3 linked regions of the Homo sapiens genome follow. The protein of the gene in region 2 interacts with the protein of the main gene of each other region in a pairwise test. Each region holds a gene or a part of one and is shown on either strand. Other genes may lie near its edges.

Region 1 (7,026 bases), on a different chromosome or scaffold from region 2:
CACAAAGAGGGGCATCCCTCATAGGGGCATACCCCTTTCTTGGGATAATGGGCATCCCTGGGGTCAGGGGTGGGCTGGGGGTGGGGGAGTGAGAGCCCACCTCCAAACCAATCACAACATTTAAAATACCAGTTTTACAGCAAAGCTCTTGAATAGCCACAGGAATGGAGGAGGACAGCTCTAGGAATCATTTGTACACAAATACCTTGGAGATATTGTAGGTTCAGTTACAGACTACTGCAATAAAGCACATATCAAAATAAAGCAAGTCACACAAATTTTTTGGTTTCCCAGTGCATATAAAAGTTATATATATATACACACACACACACACATGCACATAAGTTATATATAACTTATATGTATATATACACATATAAGTTATATATAACTTATACATATATACATATGTATGTATGTATATATAGATATATATAACTTTTAAACTGTGCTACTTTTATACTATATATGTATATATACACACATAACTTTTATACTATACTACTTTTATACTATATATACATATATGTATCTAAAACTTTTATACATATAAGTATATGTAATTTATATATGTACACATGTAAACATATATATAACTTTGTGTAATTCTATTGTACACTTAATAGACTAAAGTATATTTTATAAAAAGAAATAGAATTATTAGAATAGCACAATAGAATTAAATAAAATATATATAGTATAAAATATACTGTAGTCTATTAAGTGTATACAGTATATACATATATGTATATATACATATATGTGAATATATACATATACACACAGTATAAAATATACTGTAATATACTGTAAATATAATGGCATCAAGAATGGTGAATCCTATTCATATGGTTTTCAATTTACTTTGCCCAGATCCATCAGAGGAATCACTATCCATGGCAGCTAAAGCCTTACAAAAAGTATACATTGTAATATATTTACCTATATATATACACATATACAGTGTAAAATATACTGTAGCCTATTAAGTGTGCAATAAAATTACACCCAAAAACAATATATACACCTTAATTTTAAAAGCTTGATTGCTAAAAAATGCTAAATTGCTAAAAATGAGCCTTCAGTGAGTCTTAATCTCTTTTTGCTGGTGGAGGGTCTTGCTTCGATGTTGATGGCTGCTGACTGACCAGTTTGGTGGTTGCTGGTGGCTGGAGTGGCTGTGGCAATTTCTTAAAATAAGACAACGGTGAGTTTGCTGCGTCAATGGACTTTTCCTTTCACTAAAGATATCTCTGTAGCATGCACCGCTGTCTGATAGCATTTTATCCATAGTAGAACTTCTTTCAAAATTGGAGTCAATCCTCTCAACCCCTGCCACTGCTTTATCAACTAAGGTTATGTAATATTCTAAGTCCTTTGTGGTCATTTCAGCAATGTTCACAGCATCTTTACCTGGAGTATATTTTATCTCAAGAAGATAAAATATTTACTCATCCACAATTTATTTACTCATCCACAAGAAGCAACTCCTCATCCATTCTTCAGGCTCCACTTCTAATTCTGGTTCTCTTGCTATTTCCACCACATCTGCAGTTATTTCCTTCACTGAGGTCTTGAACCCCTCAAAGCCATTCACGATGTTTGGAATCAACTTCTTTTAAATTTCAGTTAATGTTGATATTTTGACCTTTTCCCCTGAATTATGAATGTTCTTAATGGCATCAAGAATGGTGAATCCTATTCAGACAGTTTTCAATTTACTTTGCCCAGATCCATCAGAGGAATCACTGTCTATGACAGCTAAAGCCTAAGATTTGAAAGTTGAAATTACTCCTTGATCCATGGGCTGCAGAATGGACGTTGTTTTAGCTGGCATGAAAACAACATTTATCTCCTTGTACATCTGCATCAGAGCCTTTGGGTGACTAGGTGCATAGTCAATGAGCAGTAATATTTTGAAAGGAATCATTTCTTCTGAGCAGTAAGTCTCAACAGTGGGCTTAAAATATTCAGTAAACCATTCTTAAACAGATATGCTATTATCCAGGTTTTGTTTTTCCATTTTTAGAGCATAGGCAGAGTAGATTGAGCATAATTCTTAAGGGCCGTAGGATTTTTGGAATGGTAAATAAGCACTGGGTTCATCTTAAAGTCATCAGCTGTGTTAGCCCCTAAAAAGAGAGTCAGCCTGTCCTTTGAAATTTTGAAGCCAGGCATTGACTTCCCCTTTCTAGCTATGAAAGCCCTAGGTGGCATCTTCTTCCAATATAAGGCTATTTCTTCTACTCTGAAAATGTGTTGTTTAGTGTAGTCACCTTCATCAATTATCTTAGTTAGATCTTCTGAATCACTTACTGCAGTTTCTACATCAGCACTTGCTGCTTCATCTTTGAACTTTTGCATTATGGAGAGGACTTCTTTCCTTAAACCTCAAGAACCAACCTCTGCTAGATTCAAACGTTTCTTCTGCAGCTTCCTCTCCTTTTTCAGTCTTCATAGAATGAAAGAAAGGTACTGTCTTGCTCTGGATTAGGCTTTGGCTTAAGAGAATGTTGGGGCTGGTTTGATCTTCTGTCCAGACCACTAAAGCTCTCTTCACATCAGCAATAAGACTGTTTTGCTTTCTTATCATTTGTGTGTTTGCTGGAGTAACACTTCTGATTTCCTTTAAGATCTTTTTCTTTGCATTCACAACTTGGCTGTGAGGCACAAAATGCCTCGCTTTTGGCCTGTCTTGGCTTTTGATATGCCATCCTCACTAAGCTTCATTATTTCTAGCTTTTGATTTAAAATGAGAGTCATGTGACACTTTCTTTGACCTGAACACTTAGAAGTCAAAGTAAGGTTATCAATTGGCCTAATTTCAATATTGTTGTGCCTCAGCAAATAGAGAGGCCTAAGGAGAGGAATGGCCAGCCAGGGGAGCAGCCAGAACACACACAACATTTATCAATTAGGTTGGCCATCTTACATGGATGCAGCTCAGGACGCCTCAAAACAATGACGATAGGAATATCCAAGATCACTGATCACAGATCATAGATCACCATAACAACCATAATAGTAATTTAAAAGTTTGAAATAATGTGAGAATTAACAAAACGTGACAGACACAAAATGTGCACATGCTGTTGGAAAACTGGCACAGAAAGACTTGTTCAAGGCAGGGTGGCCACAAATCTTCAATTTGTAAAAAATACAGGATCTGTGAAGCACAATAAAGTGAAGCATAGCAAAATGAAGTGTGCCTCTATTTAGCTTTGAAGTGCACTGTGTAGATCAGATTCCAACTTAATAGAAGTATTTATTGAGCCTACTATGCACAGAGTTCTGGGAGTACAGAAGAACATAATCCTTGCCCTTAAAGAGATTATGCTCAATCTCATTCACTTGAAGTCAACTCAATGTTTATTGAGTTCCTGTCTTGGGCTCAGTGGGGATGGGATAAAGAAGAAAAGAGGATGAGTTAGCCAGCCTCTGCCCCCCAAGGTATCACACCCTGTTAAGGAAGTGGGCTGTAGACAAAAATGACTCTAAGTCTGGCCATAGTAGCAGCTTTAATAGAAATTCAAACAGCATCTCAACATGAATCCTTCACAAATTTGCACATTTGCTTAGGCTGCTATTTAAATTATTTTCATTTCCCTGTGCACGTGCCAATAGCCAGTAGAGAGGACAGCCCAGGTGCTCCCCAAGCTGGCTGGGGGGATAGGGGTGGGGGCGGGAGAGAGGATGATGCTGGAAGAATCAGATTGAGGTGAACACAAGGCTGTACATACTCCACCAAGTGGACAATCAAGAGTCAACCCTGAAACCACCTCTCCCTCTGACCTGGCAGCTTTCTCATGACCATTCTTCTCTCTTCTTCCGTCTTTGTCCCTTCCGTGTGCCCCCTCCTCCAACACCCTCACCCGCTTCTCCCCGCCTCTGTCTGTCTGTCCCTCCCTGCCTGGCTCATGCCGAGGGCAGGCACCTCTGTCAGCCTCCTCGCAGTTGTAGTTATTGTGTGTGGCGTGGCCCTGGTGGCAGTTTTTCTCTTTCTCTTTTGGAAGCTGTGCTGGATGCCCTGGAGGAACAAGGAGGCCTCCAGTCCCTCTTCTGCTAATCCCCCCTTGGAAGCCCTCCAGAGCCCCAGCTTCAGAGGCAACATGGCGGACAAGCTGAAGGACCCCAGCACCCTGGGCTTCCTGGAGGCGGCCGTGAAGATCAGCCACACGTCCCCAGATATCCCAGCTGAGGTGCAGATGTCGGTCAAGGAGCACATCATGCGTCACACCCGGCTGCAGCGGCAAACTACAGAGCCAGCGTCATCCACCAGGTGAGGAGTGGACCACTCCCTTCCCTGACCCCCACACCTCCACACTCCCTTAATACATCTATGGGATTCCAGCCTGTGGGGATCACAGACCAGAAATAATAACACATATCCTTTGATTGACAAATATGTCAGATGATGTGAGCCATGATGGGTGATCAATGAGGAGGTGGGCACCAGGAAAGACTTCATGAAAGGGAAACCTTTGAGGCGGGTTGCTGTATATGTGGTTTGCACTTGGGGTGTGTGTGGGTGTGAGGGGAATGGAATAGTGGAATAGGGGAGTGTTGGATGTTTGGAAGGAAAGACTTCAGGCAGAAGGAAGAGAACAGTAAAGGCCTAGAGATGTAAGAGTTCATGGTGTGTTTAGGGATATGTCAGTAAAGCCTGATAGCTACAGTCTGCAGTACATGGCAGATAAGGCAAGGGAATCTTAATAGTTTGAGAATCAGGATTCCTTTAAAGCCTTTCAGAGTTCCCTGCATGACAACAACTGTAAATACATACAGCATCCTTTAACTGAAAATAGCAACAAGAAAAACATAACGACAAAAACCTACCCTAAATTCAGAAGCACTTTTAAAAGATGTGGTGCAAGCATGCGTAAGGCATTGTATTTACTCAAAACTTAGGGCTCTGATGGACTCCTAGGTCCCTGCAACGGCTCTCCAGGCCCTCAGGGGACCAACAAAAGAGAACGAGGCCTGGTCTTCAGACTGGAGGCCAGGAATGAACATGCTGGGAGGTCACACTGACAGTCTGTCATATGGCCTTGGGCAAGTTCCTCACCTTCCCTTAGACTCACTTTTTCCAACTGTAAAATAAGGCTGATGACTTTTATATGGCAGTTGTGAGGAGCCAATGGAAGAATCAATGTGATTGATAAGGAGAGCTAACACATATATTGCTTATGATTATGCTTGGCTCTATTCTAAGCACTTCATATGTAATCAATTCATTTCACAGCAATCCTATGCAGCTGTTACTTTTATTATCCTCGTTTTTATGGCACAGAGAGGTTAAATAACTTTCCCAAGATCTCAGCTAGAAAGTGACAGAGCCAAAATTAACCTATGCAGGCTAACTCCAAAGCCCATGCTTTTACCACTCTGCTGCCTGCCGTATAGCAAATGCTTAACAAATGGTGATGGTGATGATGGTGATGAAGTGGGTGCCACATTGAGGATAAGAAGGGATGGTCCTTCTCTTAAGGAATCTCATGATTTAATAAGGAAACCAGAGTCATGTCTACTAGGAAGTAAACCTAGAAAGCAGGTAACAGAAAAGCAGGAAAAAGTGATTATGATAACAATGGCTAAAGTTTATTGAGCTTACTATATATCAGGCACCATTCCAACTACTTTACATATATTAAGACATGTAATGCTCACCACAACCTTGCACACAAAGTGTATGCAGAGCAAAAGTGGGGTCAAGAAGAGGAAGGAAAAGGGGGCTCAACAAGGGATAAGATGAGCCAGGGCCTCCAGGCTCGTGTTTGCCTTCATCCCCCTTCCCCTGAGCCCTGACCACACTCCCTCTGCCCCCTCCTGCCCTCTACCAGGCACACGTCCTTCAAGCGCCACCTGCCAAGGCAGATGCATGTCTCCAGTGTAGACTATGGCAATGAGCTTCCACCAGCAGCAGAGCAGCCCACCAGCATTGGCCGCATCAAGCCTGAGCTCTACAAGCAGAAGTCGGTGGATGGGGAGGATGCCAAGTCTGAGGCCACCAAGAGCTGCGGGAAGATCAACTTCAGCCTACGCTACGATTACGAGACCGAGACCCTGATTGTGCGTATCCTGAAGGCTTTTGACCTCCCTGCCAAGGACTTTTGTGGAAGCTCTGACCCTTATGTCAAGATCTACCTCCTGCCTGACCGCAAATGCAAGCTGCAGACCCGGGTGCACCGCAAGACCCTGAACCCCACCTTTGATGAGAACTTCCACTTCCCTGTGCCCTATGAGGAGCTGGCTGACCGCAAGCTGCATCTCAGTGTCTTCGACTTTGACCGCTTCTCCCGCCATGACATGATTGGCGAGGTCATCCTGGACAACCTCTTTGAGGCCTCTGACCTGTCTCGGGAAACCTCCATCTGGAAGGATATCCAATATGCCACAAGTGTAAGTACAGCCCTGTTCCTTGGCTTCTTGAGGATTTGTGGTTCTGGGTTGGGTGGGACATGTCCCCAAACCCTCACTTCCTAGAGACAAATGGGCCTTTGCCATTTGGGATGTGAAGAGGGACTCTGGAAACTGCCCAGTGGCCCAGTCTACCCTTGCACTCTGCCCCAGGTTGGGATGGCAGAGAGCAGAGTCCCCATGTAGCTAGGAAGGGAAGGGAATTTTTATCTGTGGCTTCTGGTTGCATGTTCTGGGGTGGTTCTTTCTACTGAGAGTACTGATGTGCATTAGAAACTTGGCATAGGCAATTGAAACAGGCCATATCAATCAGACTGAACTAGGCTATGCTGCAGCAGCAAACAGTCCGAGGATTTTGTGGCTTTAGACAACCAAAGTTTATGCCTTGTTCATGTTTCATGTGCTTTGCAGCTGGACTGGGGACTCTGCTCCACCTTGTTACCTGGGGACCCAAGCCAACAGAGGCTGCATTTAGACACGGGCCCCCACAGTTAAACATCAGGAGGAAGAGGAAGTGGCAAATCACGCACTGTTTATTAAAACTTCCACGCAGAAGTGACACATGTCACTTCCACTCCCATTAGAACAAGACACGCGGTAACTCCTAAT
Region 2 (7,026 bases):
GCAGTGGTGTGATCATGGCTCACTGCAGTCTTGACCTCCCAGACTCAAGAGATCCTCCCACCTCAGCCTCCAGAGTAGCTGGGACTACAAGCTGGTGCCACAACACCCAGCTAATATTTTTATTTTTTGTAGAGATGGGGTCTCATTATGTTGCCCAGACTGGTCTCAAACTCTTGGACTCAAGCAATCCTCCCACTTCAGCCTCCCAAAGTGCTGGGATTACAGGCGTGAGCCACCACACCTGGCCCTTTCTGTCTTTTTTTTTTTTGAGACTCGGTCTCGCTCCTGTCACCCAGGCTGGAGTGCAGTGGTGTGATCACGGGTCACTGCAGCCTCTACTTCCAGGGTTCAGTTGATCCTCCCACCTCAGCCTCCCGAGTAGCTGGGACTACAGGTGCATGCCACTATACCCGGCTAAGTTTTTGTATTTTTAGCAGAGTTTAGGTACTGCCATATTGCGCCCAGGTTGGTCTTGAACTCCTGGGCTCAAGCAATCTGCCCGTTTCGGCCTCCCAAAGTGCTGGGATTCCAGGTGCGAGCCACCACACCCGGATGCTTTCTTAGTCTTTATCGCATGTGATCTCATTGTAACACCTGAAGCCCTAGGTCAATTCTTTTTTTTTTTTTTTTTTTGAGATGGAGTCTCACTCTGTTGCCCAGGCTGGAGTACACTGGTTCAATCTGGGCTCACTGCAACCTCCACCTCCCGGGTTCAAGCGATTCTCCTGCCTCGGCCTTCTTAGTAGCCGGGACTACAGGTGTGCACCATACACCTGGATAATTTTTGTATTTTTAGTAGAGACAGGGTTTCACCATGTTGGCCGGGCTGGTCTCAAACTCCTGGGCTCAAGTGATCCACCCGCCTTGGCCTCCCACAGTGCTGGGATTACAGGCATGAGCCACCATACCGGGCCAAAGGATTGTGGTTCTCAAATGCTGGCCTCACTGGTACCTCCTTAAGTTAACCATTTATAAGGAACATAGCCTCTCAGACTGGCTTGCACCTGGAAAATTCATCAATTTGTCCTTACACATTTTATACATAAAAACAGAGGCCCATAAAGGTCAAAATTCTAGCTAGAAGTAGACGTAAGTGCCCTAAGTCCTAATGCAATACTCTTTCCTCTTCAACGCTGTGTCTCCCCCATGGGCTGGAACACAGCTCTCTCCAATCCTTTCCTCTATTCTGGAGATCGGCGAACTACAGCCCAATTCAGCCCTCCATTGCCTGTTTAGATAAGTTGTACTAGAACACAGCTGTGCCCATTTGTTTACGTACAGTTTATAGCTACTTCTGTGGTATAACAGCAGAGTTGGGTAGTTGCAACTGAGACCATACAACCCACAAAGCTAAAAATATTTACTGTCTGGCCCTTTACAGAAAAAGTTCGCCAACTCCTGCTCTATTCCATGGCAAGAGTCCGACTAGTTTGAATTTAAAATTCAGTGTGTTAGCTAGATGGAAAGAGTTTTTCAAAGTGTAATTATATCTGACAAACAATTTTTGAGTACAATTCTGTGCCAGGCCATGTGCTGTTATGGAAGTTTCATAAGTAAATTAAAAAATCATTGCCCTCCTGGGTCCCTGACCTACTCAGAGAAATTAATACAAGTTATTCAAGTAATGAGAATTACAAAGCACACTGTTACAATTGGAATCAAGTCTCTGACAAAAGCTTTCACCTGCTCTGTCAACCCACTAAGTGTGGTGTCATCTCTTAAAATAACATAAGGTATCTTTAATAGATTTAAATCTATTTAATCCTAAAAGTAACACTAGGTCAGTCTGACATATTGTGGGAAATGGTCACTCAGTAAGAAATAGCTCTGAGTTTAGGACAGAAAACTACCCATACTACATAGAAACTGTTAATGGAATTAAACCCCAAACACCTGAACTGGGAGTGTCTGCCACAACTCCTGAGAGGTCCCTCTGCCTCAGATCTACTTCTGTCAGAACAAAACCTCAAGAAACCTCTGCCTTCTGACCTGCACCAAGCTCATTTCCAGCTGCAGGGCATCTCTCTCTCTCCGAGCTGTATCCAGCTCTCCTTCCAGCCGCCGCACCTCAGACTGCACCAATGCCAACTGGTGCTGGGTCTCCCAGGCGGCCTGGGCTTCCCTCTGGCTCTTCTCCTATGAAAGACAAATCAAATGTATATACATACCTCATTTCTTATCTCCTGGTTACCTACACTCCCCAGTTCATCCTCCCAAACCCTAAAATCCAAGCTTCCCCCAGCTCCTCCCATTTGTTTTATTTCCCCATCCCTGTTGAATTTCAGTCTTTGGCCTTTCACGTATTCATTACCCCCAGCCCTTCCTGCTGGCCCTATACTCTCAACCTTGTCTCCCACACATGGCTCTCTACTCTCCATTCCTGCCTATATGTATCCCCCATATTCTAACATTCCATCCCATTCAATTATTTTGCCCTTCATCTACTCCCTAGTTCCTCAGCTCTTCCAACTGCCACTTTTACCTTCTCCCTTTCCAGCTGAGCCTGGCTCTCCTCCTGCAGCGCCTGGTAGTGTTCCTTAAGCTGGTGCTCTTGCTGGGCCCAGGTCTGCCGTTCTTCTTCTAGGGCAGCCCGAAGAGTCTCCAACTCTCGATGCTCACTCAGTTGCCCAGCCCGAGCTGCATCCCGCTCTTCCTGCAGGACACAGCACCGCTGCTGTTCTGCCTCCAACCTCAGAGTCAGAGCTTGCCTTTCCTCCTCCTACAGCCGCAGAAGAAAACCAAGCTCCTTAGTAGGCTCTTCAGAGACCAGCGATCTGCCCTCTGACCCTCATACAAGGTGCCTGCTGAGAATTATGCTCATTAAAAACACAATAATTAGGCCGGGTGCGGTGGCTCACACCTGTAATCCCAGCATTTTGGGAGGCCAAGGCAGGCAGATTACCTGAGGTCAGGAGTTTGAGACCAGCCTGGTCCAACATGGTGAAACCCCATCTCTACTAAAAATACAAAAATTAGCCAGGCGTGGTGGTGGGTGCCTGTAATTCCAGCTACTTGGGAGGCAAAGGCAGGAGAATCGCTCTAACCTGGGAGGTGGAGGTTGCAGTGAGCTGGGATCACACAACTGCACTCCAGCCTAGGCGACATCGAGCAAGACTCCATCTCAAATAAAACCAAAAGAAACCCCACAATAGTTGACAGGCGCAGTGGCTCATGCCTGTAATCCCAGCACTTTGGGAGGCTGAGGCAGGCAGATCATCTGAGGTCAGGAGTTTGGGACCAGCCTGGCCAACATGGTGAAACCATGTCTCTACTAAAAATATAAAAATTAGCTGGGCATGGTGGTGCACACCTGTATTCCCAGCTACTCAGGAGGCTGAGGCAGGAGAATTGCTTGAACCTGGGAGGCGGAGGTTGCAGTGAGCCAAGATTGTGCCACTGAACCCTAGCCTGGGCAACAGAGCGAGACTCCATCTCAAAACAAACAAACACAATAGTTGACAAGCTCATAGGATTATAATATAGTAGATAAGAGTTCCTGTTCCAGAGCCAGGTAGACCTGGGTTCAAATCTCAGGTTCGAATCCTGGTTCTGGAATTTACTATGTGTTCTTAGGCATACATTCTTATCTGTAAACTGGAGATCATAACAGGGTCTGCCTTCTGAGCATTAAAGTAAAAAGCATATGTAAGGCATTTAGCACGGCATCAGGCACATAGTAAGTACTCAATACACAATAGTTACCACCATCATCGTCAAAAGAAATTCCACTAAGACTAGAATATCCAGCCTATAATCGTGAACCATCACCCATCATCATCAGGACTGTCAGATATAGCCTGTTAAGACTACAAGTACCAGCATGCATGTAGCAAGCATGCATTATGCATGCAACAAGTTCCAATCCCAGCTACTAATTCATATGGCTAATCACCTTATCATTTCAGCTCTAAGAGACTTGAGTGAAGTGGCTGGGTATGGTGGCTTATGCCTGTAATCCCAGCACTTTGGGAGGCCAAGGCGGGCAGATCACTTGAGGTCAGGAGTTTGAGACCAGCCTGGCCAACATGGCGAAACCCCGTCTCTACCAAAAAAATACAAAAATTAGCTAGGCGTGGTGGTATACGCCTGTAGTCCCAGCTACTTGGGAGGCTAAGGTGGGAGAATCGCTAGAATCCAGGGGGCAGAGGCTGCAGTGAGCTGAGATTGTGCCACTGCACTCCAGCCTGGACAACAGAGCGCGACCCTGTCTCAAAAAAAAAAAAAAAAAAACACGAAAAGAAACTTGAGTTAGTCAATTTCATACCTTTTTTGGCCATGCCCTACACCAGAGGTCCCAAACCAGATTGAAAAAAATCACCCAGGAAATTTCTGAAAAGATTTGAGTTCCACCATATATCTACTGAATCAAAACCTCTGCAGGTGAGTCCCAGAAATCTTTATTTTATTTTATTTTTTATTTTTATTTTTTGAGATGGAGTCTCACTCTGTCACCCAGGCTGGAGTGCAGTGGCTTGATCTCAGCTCACTGCAACCTCTGCCTGCTGGGTTCAAGCAATTCTCCTGCCTCAGCCTCCCAAGTCGCTGGGACTACAGGCATGCACCACCATGTCCAGCTAGTTTTTTGTATTTTTAGTAGAGACGGGGTTTCACCATGCTGGCCAGGCTGGTCTCAAACTCCTGACCTCATGATCTGCCTGCCTTGGCCTCCCAAAGTGCTGGGATTACAGGGGTGAGCCACCGTGCCTAGCCTATATTTTAAAATAATTCTTCAGATGACACTAATATTCTAATGATGATACAATTTGCAGAGTTTCTCAAACCGACTTGGTAGCAGAGCCTTTTTTTTTAATAGAATATCTAGCTGAATTAGTGTTCTAAGGAACACACTTTGGGAAACAGTGCTCTGGTGCAACTCAAATTATAATCTCCCACAATCCACCAATAGCCCACAGCTCTCTAGAAGTAATTAACAGCTTCCAGTGGAATTAACCCAGTCCAATCTTCTCACCAGTGTCTCTCTTTCCCGTTGCTGCAGTCTGGCACTTTCCTGCTCACGATTCAGGGCCTCCATGGCCTCAGAAAGGCTTTGTTCCAGGCGGGTTACTGTCTTTCAGGAAGAGAGGAATACAGGGCAGAGGAACTGTGGGAAATCTGTGTGTGCTATATTTTATAAAGCATTGACAATGTAAACTTGAAACTTCACAGTTAACTAAATGACTAAGGGGCCAGATAGAAGACTACATGGTGTGGGAAAAATTAAGACATTGATGATTCAAGTTGGACAGCAGAAACGGTTAAAGGAGAAGAAAGGAGGGATGAGAAGAAATGTCAGGACAGCCACTACAAGACTGAGGTCAATCTGTTGGAAACCCTAATTCCAGAGCTATTTCTGCCCCTTTCCATCTTGAGATCTGTGACTCAGGTTCTAATGCCATATGCTCCAGGGCGCTCACCTCCTGCTGCTTGCTTCTGGTGAGCTCTGCTGCCTGGTGTTCCTCTTGAAGTCCCCTGAGAACCTCTGTCCGCTCAGCCTCATGCCGGTTCCAGCCCTCCACCACACGGGCCAGGGTCTTAGGTAGGGCAAGTAAGATGAAATTTCAAAATAACTTTTTTGCCTCTTTCTACCCACAGGGGCAGGGTCAACAGCCATCTTCTCCCAACAGTCAGCAAACCAACCCCTTGCCCAGCTCTCAGCATGTACCAAGAAACATTGGTTGGCCACCCACTTATTTATTATTCCTTAATGCTCTTCATGGAGAGACCCACCCACATTTTGCTACCCTGGTACCTTGTCCAGTTGTTCAATCATGGTATCTTTCTTGCGGTCGGCAGCCACAGCCACGGCTAATTGTTGCTGTAGCTCTAACACTCGGGTCTGCAGGCTCTGAATATGGCGCTCACAATGCTGGGGAAAAGGGTGAGGAGTCTGGGTGTTGCCCATCTTTGGTATGACCACAGCACCAAACTTTCCAGCTCCTCTAGTGGGGGAGTGGGCTGGAGCCAAGAAGCTTGGGTCCCAAGAACAGAATAGGTCTGGAGAGGGAGAATCAGGAAAATTCTGAAGCAAGCACCTTGAGGCTCAAGATCTCCAACATGTTTCTGTACCTTTTCAGGAGATAAGTGCTTAGATTCCAGGCTCCTCCTTTTCCTGGATCTCCTGAGTAAAAATCCCATAAACCTTTTGGCAGAGATGCAGCAGCCCACACAGCAAAATGTGCAAAGTTACTCCTACCTTCAGAAGCTCATTGGACACAATGAATAAACACAGCAAGGATAAAGGGGAAAGCCTTTCATTCATGCCAAGGGGTTTAACATGGAGAAAGAGAGGCTTCCAAAAATGGCAACCAGTGATTTTGACTTTTCCTCTCCTTTGTCTATTTCTCTGTCCCCTTCAGACACTAAGGCAGAGGCTCACAGAGATAAAGCTCAGTATATCACCAGTAGCTGTAAATCCTGTGCACAAGCTAGCAGAGTTTGTGTCCATTCGACAAACACAGAGTGTTTCTGTGTTATGTATATTCTAGACCTTAGGCAGCCAGTACTAAGACAAACAAGATACGGACCCTCAAATTTTAGAGAGGAGAAAAAAACAAGATATATCAGAACGATAAGCTACATGAAAGAAATAAGAAGGCGATCTGACTACTTGGAAAGGAGGTGGTGCCATATTAGATGGAATGGTCAAAAAAGCCCTCCTCAGAAAAACATTTAAGTCCCAGCTTTCAGGCTCTTAACCCTCAGCCCTTTTCTTTTTTAGTTTTTTTTTTTTGAGACGGAGTCTCGCTCTGTCGCCCAGGCTGGAGTGCAGCGGCATGATCTCGGCTCACTGCAAGCTCCGCCTCCCAGGTTCACGCCATTCTCCTGCCTCAGCCTCCCGAGTAGCTGGGACTACAGGCACCCACCACCATGCCCGGCTAATTTTTTCTATTTTTAGTAGAGACGGGTTTCACCGTGTTAGCCAGGATGGTCTCGATCTCCTGACCTCGTGATCCGCCTGCCTCAGCCTCCCAAAGTGCTGTGATTACAGGCGTGAGCCACCACGCCAGGCCCCCTCAGCCCTTTTCA
Region 3 (7,026 bases), on a different chromosome or scaffold from region 2:
ATAAGCAGCTCTTACAAGTTACACAGGATATACTGATTTTTTTTTTTTTTTTTTTTTTGAGATGAAATCTCACTCTTGTCGCCCAGGCTGGAATGCAGTGGTGCGATCTCGGCTCACTGCAGCCTCCACCTCCTAGGTTCAAGCGATTCTCATGCCTCAGCCTCCTCAGTAGCTGGGATTACAGGTGTGCGTCACCACACCTAGCTAATTTTTTGTATTTTTAGTAGAGATGGGGTTTCACCATGTTGGCCAGGTTGGTCTTGAACAATAGGCATAAACCAGAGCCATCTTAGGCAAATCAAGATGTTTGGTCATACCAGTGATAAGTAACCAGAGAAGCTATCACCTTAGAAATGGTTGTGGATGTTGAAAATAAGTGAATTGAGCCCTCAACTAGATGGGCATGAGTGGAGATTACTAGCCTAAGATGACTTTCTCTAGTCACATGATATTGCCCTGAAATATCATGGGCTATTTCTTCTGGGTACATCTTCCTATATAAGGATGTTGGGATTTGAAGAAAGTTCTAGATTCATCTCTAGATGAACATTCAGAAGTCATTAACATATAGGTGGTATATGAAAGCTTAGAAATAGATGAGATCATCAAAGGAAAGCACAAAGAAAGAGAAATGAGGAGGAGGAGAGAATCCAGAGGCTCACCAACATGAAGGAGCTGGCAAAGAAGAATCCAGCCAATGAGACTGAAGAGGAGTGGTTAGAGGGGTACGAGGAAAACCAAAAAAGAGGGGGGTGTGTCTGTGGGTGTGTGTGCGCGTGTGCACACAGGTGTATATATATACACACACACACGTATATATACACAAACATATGTAAATACACACACACACACACACACACACACACACACACACACACACATATATATATAAAATTTCACAAGCCAAGAGAGAAGAGAGGGTTAAGAAATGAATGGTTAATATTTTCATATGCATCACTTTGGGGGCCAGGAAGACAAGTCAGTATTCTCCTAGTTTCCCAAGATGACTTGTAAGTCATTGTTATTCGATTTTATCCACTTTTAAGATTACATTATAGCTATATTTATAGTTGTCACCTACTGACCTTTGAGTCAGCCATCTCCATTTACTGAGAATTTTGTCGTATGACTATCTTCCTTTCCACACAGAAGCTATATATTCTGGGGACTTCATTATCCATAAGAACAATTGATTCCAACACACAAGACTTAATGCTCTTTGCCTTCTTCTTCAATGACCCCTACTTTGCAGAAGGCTAGCATGGTTTAGTAGTCAGGCATAAGTGCTTCAATGCTAGAAGGACTCAGAAAGACTCAGGTACTTCGTAGCTGTGAGTCTTGGGAAAAGTTACTCAATCTCACTGAGCTCCAGTTTCCTCATCTGTAAAATGTTGATACTAATATGTGAAACATAAGCATGATAACCTATGGAAAATATTTACTATAGTGACTACTACACAGTGTTCAATGAATAGTAGTTTTTATTAATATTAATATTGTTATAATTAGCACTATTAATCTTGGCTATCCACCCATCATTGGTCATTCTTTGGCCCTTATCATCACCTGAAACTGCTAACTCCAGAATCTTAAATTGAGAATTCTCACATCTATGTGCCAATTTTTCCATCTCTAGTACTCTTTTATTTCCATTAATCCTGCACTTGACTCATTTAGATTCTTCATCCTCTTCATTATCCACATTTACCAGCCTTGTCTTGGCTTGGCTTTGTTCCTTAATAAGCAGGATTCCTATGGCTCAACCCTTCAATTAGCAGCCTCATTACCACTCTCTATTCCTTGACTTCCCACTACCCCCTACTCAAGTTTTCCATCACATCTTCCCTTCCAATCTCAATCCAGGTTCAGTCTACTTGTTTTCTGCATTGTTATGGGGGTGGGGAAGGGGAGTGGTCCAAGTTCAGTCTATTTGTTTTCTGCATTGTTATGGGGGGCAGGGAAGGGGAGTGGGAGCAGGCAGGCTGCTGGAGAACACTGCTTAACCATCCTGCTGGCCTCTGTACATTTGTGATTTCAAGCCTGGAAGGGTATTCATCATGATTCAGCAAAGAAGTCACATGCCCCTAGTTAAGTCCCTTTTACAATCTCAATAGTAACTTTTATTTTCCCCTCAAGCATACTCCAACCCATGTTCTTCCTTCTCAATCTCAGCAGATAATCTTGCTTCACAGAGAAAAAGAGATGTCATCCTGGATACTAACTTATATCTATATCTACCCCATTTCCTTTTCGTTTTTAAACAGGAAGATACATCATTCCTCTTCTTCAGGGTAACTCTTTCATTTGTCCTCCTGGACCTGACTCTTCCATTTCCTCTCGTTACATTTGATCAATTATCTTCTACCTCTTGTGACTTCAATTTTCTTCCTCTTCAATGGTCCCTTTCCCTCAATCCACTGAAGTGTCCTTGGCTTCTCCATCCTTAAAACAGACAAACCTTCCCAATGATCACATCTACTTCCTCAAGCTTCTACCCACTAACCTCCCTTCATTACCAAAAGTATTTGAAAGAATATATTTACTGAACAAATGAAAATTGTTTTATTGGGTTTAGGCTTCTCTCCTGAGCACCAGGCCTTTTTTTTTTTTTAAATGTATCTATATCTGACTCAGTTTCAACAAAGGAAATAAAACAGCTAATTCCACCAAACTGAAGAAAACTGATGGATTTCACATCTCCAAATCCACTCCTCCACCCGTATTTTTTAAATTACGAGTAATTATCTGCATCCCCATTCACCCTCAGACAATCTAGAATCCTTAAAGCCTGCTTTGATTCCTCCCTCTCCTTTATCCATAACTACACAAGGCCTTTCTAAAATCTCTCACATCTGTCCCCTTTGCGCCTTCCTGGGATTATTACTGTTGAGGTCTTTCTCATCTTACACGAATTGAAAGGGATGTTGTCAGGGTTAAATAAAATAATAAATGGGAATGTACTCTGTAAGTTATAAAGTAGTACTATACAAAGAGTATCATACAAATACTATTACATCTTTGGCAAAGTAAGCATGAAGTTAGCTTAATATGACTTGTTCTTAAACAAATTCTGGGTCTTAGTAATCAGTGCTTTCTTTTCTAATTACAAATCACTAAGCACTTGGCAAGCTGGTCTATAGTTTTTCTAGGAATCAGTCAGTGTCAAGATTTTCAATATATAGTTTCTGGACTTTACCTTCCTCTCCCCCCATTTTTAAATGTAAAATATGCAATTCTTCAGGTTTCTGGCAGAAATCTTCTATCCTCTTTTTTAAAAAAAGACTTTATTTTTTAGAAGAGTTTTAGGTTCACAACAAAACAGAGAGGCAATTACAGAGTTTCCATGTACACCCTGCTCTCTCACACATGTACAGCCTCCCCAACTATGGACAGCCCCCCTAAACTGGTACATTTGTTATAATCAATGAACCTACACTGACAGGTCATTATCACCCAAAGTCCACAGTTTACATTAGGATTCACTCTTGATGTGGTATATTCTATGGGTATCGACAAATGTATAATAACATGTAGCTACCACTGTAGTATCTTCAGAATAGTTTCACCGCCCTAAAAATCTTCTGTGCTCTGCGTATTCATCCCTCCTTCTCTCCACCACTAATCTTTTTACTGTCTCCATAGTTTTGCCTTTCCCAGAATGCCATACACTTGTAATCATAAAGTATGCAGACTTTTCAGTTTGCCTTTTTTCACTTAGTGATATGCACTAAAGATTTCTTCATGTCTTTTCATGGTCAAGCCACTTTTAAACACAACTTTACAGGTATAACTGACATGTAACAAACCACATATTTAAAGTGCATAATTTGATATGTTCCAACATATGTGTACACCCATGAAACCATCATCAAATCAAGATAGTAAACATATCTAGTATCCCCTGAAGTTTCCTAGTATGCCACTGTTCTCCCTCTTTCCTGCCCCTTCCCTCTGTAACTTATCTCCAGGCCAGCATTGATCTTTCTTCCATTATAGATTAATAGGCATTTTCTAGAATTTTACAGATGGAACAATGCAGTATGTACTTTTTTTTTCTTTTTGGTCTGGCTTTTTTTCGTGCTGTGTAATTATTTTGAGATTTATCCATGTTGTTGTGTGATCTAAAGTTCATTCCTTGTTATTGCTAAGTAGTAATCTGTTATATAAACATTGCTTTTTAAAGATGAGTGGCAGTAGTTTTATAAACATTTCTAATATGTGTAGTACTCTACCCTATTGTTCATTTATTTCTTCCATTCAGTTAAAATAGTGAAAAGCTCTCTTATGTCCTCATCCATTTTATGTTTTAATTTCAAAGAATCATATTTGAATGGAACAATGACTAGCCTTTTGAAAATTATTTGATTCCTTTCTTGATTAAGATAATCAATTTTAAGCATTAATCTTTCATGTTATTAGGTAAGATTTTTGTTTTTCAGCAGTTAGACCTGGAAAGCCTTCAACATTTCCAAACGTATTGGACCTCTCTCATTACTGTAAACAAAGTTGGGGGATTAAGAGTTACAAAGCCAAACACTGGTGACACACAGCAGCAAAATAAAATAATATCAAAGACAATACAGTGCCCTCAAAGACTCCAAGATCAGTTTATAATTAGTTATTAATCTGACAGATTTTTATACATTTTTAAGATATATTTAGGTTGAAAATCCATTTTAAAAAATTAGCTTATTTCCTGGTTCTTAAAGTGTAGACCTTAAATTCCAGAAGACTGATATATACATATATATGTTTTGTTTGTTTGTTCTGTTTAGAGATGACGTGTTGCTGTGTTGCCCAGGCTGGACTCGAACCAGGCTCAAGCGATCCTCCCACCTCAGTCTTCCAAGTAACTGGGACTATAGGCACAAGCCATGGCTCCTGGCTTCGGAGACTGATAGACTTTTTATCCAAGTTTTACAGGGCAAATTCTATTGCTACAAATACTATATAATTTGATTTAGAAGATCTTCATTTAACATGTGATGGCCCATTTATTTCAAGCCATCTTTACTGAAACAAAACAATTAGGCTAATCCCTGCATATTACTAACTTACCAGTGTTAAATGAAATTTATAGGAGGTCACTGGTTTAGACTGAGTTCCTCCTGCACTAGGGACAACAGATCAAATCAAAATGGAGTCACTCATGCTGAAGTTCCACTTCACCAAGCCAAAACTAAGTTGTTTATCTGACCTTCCAAGCAATCAGGAGAGACAGAGTTAGTAGTCAAATCCCAAACAGGCCAGTTGATATGATATGATATGACTGACATAAGGAAGTCCCATCTGCTTTAACCCTAATAAGAAAAGTAACTTTAAATGACCAATTTGCTTTTTCTTTTCTGTTTCTGTTTTCCTCACCCCTTTTCAGTGTATACGGTAGTATCCCTTTATCCGCAGATTCATTTTCCAAGGTTTCAGTTACCTGAGGTCAACTGTGGTCTGAAAATATTAAATGGAAAATTCCAGAAATAATTCATAATTTCAAATTGCACCCTGTTCTGAGTAGCATGATGAAATCTCATCCTGCCCTATAGTGTATATAGGATTCAGTACTATCCACCATTTCAGGCTTCCACTGGGGATCTTAGAACATATCTCCCCAAGGCCGGGTGCGGTGGCTCATGCCTGTAATCCCAGCACTTTGGGAGGCCAAGATGGGCAGATCACTTGAGGTCAGCAGTTCGAGACCAGCCTGGGCAACACGGTGAAACCCCATGTCTACTAAAATTACAAAAATTAGCCGGGCATGGTGGCAGGCATCTGTAGTCCCAGCTACTCAGGAGGCTGAGGCAGGAGAATCGCTTGAACCTAGGAGCCGGAGTTTGCAGTAAGCTGAGATCACCCCACTGCACTCTGGCCTGGGCAACACAGCAAGTCTCCATCTCAAAACAAACAAACACACACACACACACACACACACACACACACACACACACACCCCTTCAAGATAAAGTGAGACTACCATAAAACCAACCACTTCTGCTCGGCTCATGAGAACACTTGTTCTATTTTATAAAATGAGGTGTTGCCTGATTCTACAATGGCAAAGGTGAAGTAAGATCTTTAAGCTAAATTTGTTGTAATTTTGTCTTTTGACATTACAAAGTATTAAAAATGAGTCATTTCCTTTGTAATTTTGCAAATGGCCAAGTAAAGCCACACTTGATAACATTTTAGGGCTTAAAAAAAATCTTGAACTTGGCCCAGCACGGTGGCTCACGCCTGTAATCCAGGCACAGTTGGGGGCCGAGGAGGGCAGATGATGAGGTCAGGAGATTGAGATCATCCAGGCTAACACAGTGAAACCCCATCTCTGCTAAAAACACAAAAAATCAGCCGGGTGTGGTGGCACACACCTGTAGTCCCAGCTACTCTGGAGGCTGAGGCAGGAGAATTGGCTGAACCTGGGAGGTGGAGGTTGCAGTGAACCAAGATCTCGCCTCTACACTCCAGCCTGGGTGACAGAGCGAGACTCTGTCTCCACGGAAATCTTTAGTAAAAGGCGAAAGATTTATACAATTTGAAGAGAAACCAGAGAATGACTCTGTCTAAAAAAAAAAAAAATGTTGAACTTAAGCCGGCAACCAGATAATTCAGGAAAAGATTAATCAGATGAAGGTGTTCAAGTTAAATACAGCAACAGACCAAAAAGGTACTCTGAAATTCCAGACTATATGGCTCTCTCTACAACCGAAGCTAACAAACACACTATGTGAGTGCAATCAAACAAAAATAAAACTACAATTGGGAAAAGAATGACTAGGTTGGTCCAAAAGAATTAAGAAGAAAATAATCATGAAATCAAAGCTGGCAGTTTATGGGTGAAATTTTTAACCCCCTGGTATAGTCAAGGTAACGTAAAAAGTGTCTTCAAAACAAAGTCACTTGTGTTTACTACTAATAATCTCAGCTTTGACAAAAATTCTTTGCTTGGCCAAACTTACTCAGGCTTTTGAATTTTCTGTGAGGCCCATCTGTGCACTTCCTTGTAAAATCCAGTATTAGCAAAGAACCCTGCTA

What was found.
Region 1: the proteins of CNTROB (region 2) and SYT6 interact in binary tests that used the Homo sapiens proteins (3 or more experiments, as listed by UniProt).
Region 3: the proteins of CNTROB (region 2) and LYST interact in a two-hybrid assay, tested with the Homo sapiens proteins (one study listed by BioGRID).

What each region holds. Positions count from the first base shown.
Region 1 is NC_000001.11:114,136,868-114,143,893, reverse strand, and holds part of SYT6 (synaptotagmin-6), read left to right. Parts: intron 1-3,930; coding exon 3,931-4,279; intron 4,280-5,840; coding exon 5,841-6,399; intron 6,400-7,026.
Region 2 is NC_000017.11:7,935,206-7,942,231, reverse strand, and holds part of CNTROB (centrobin), read right to left. Parts: intron 5,995-7,026; exon of another isoform or gene 5,903-5,994; coding exon of another isoform or gene 5,867-5,902; coding exon 5,750-5,866; intron 5,532-5,749; coding exon 5,415-5,531; intron 5,069-5,414; coding exon 4,970-5,068; intron 2,720-4,969; coding exon 2,483-2,719; intron 2,137-2,482; coding exon 1,990-2,136; intron 1-1,989. UniProt on the Homo sapiens protein: Required for centriole duplication. Inhibition of centriole duplication leading to defects in cytokinesis.
Region 3 is NC_000001.11:235,856,905-235,863,930, forward strand, and holds part of LYST (lysosomal-trafficking regulator), read right to left. Parts: intron 2,002-7,026; exon of another isoform or gene 1-2,001. UniProt on the Homo sapiens protein: Adapter protein that regulates and/or fission of intracellular vesicles such as lysosomes. Might regulate trafficking of effectors involved in exocytosis.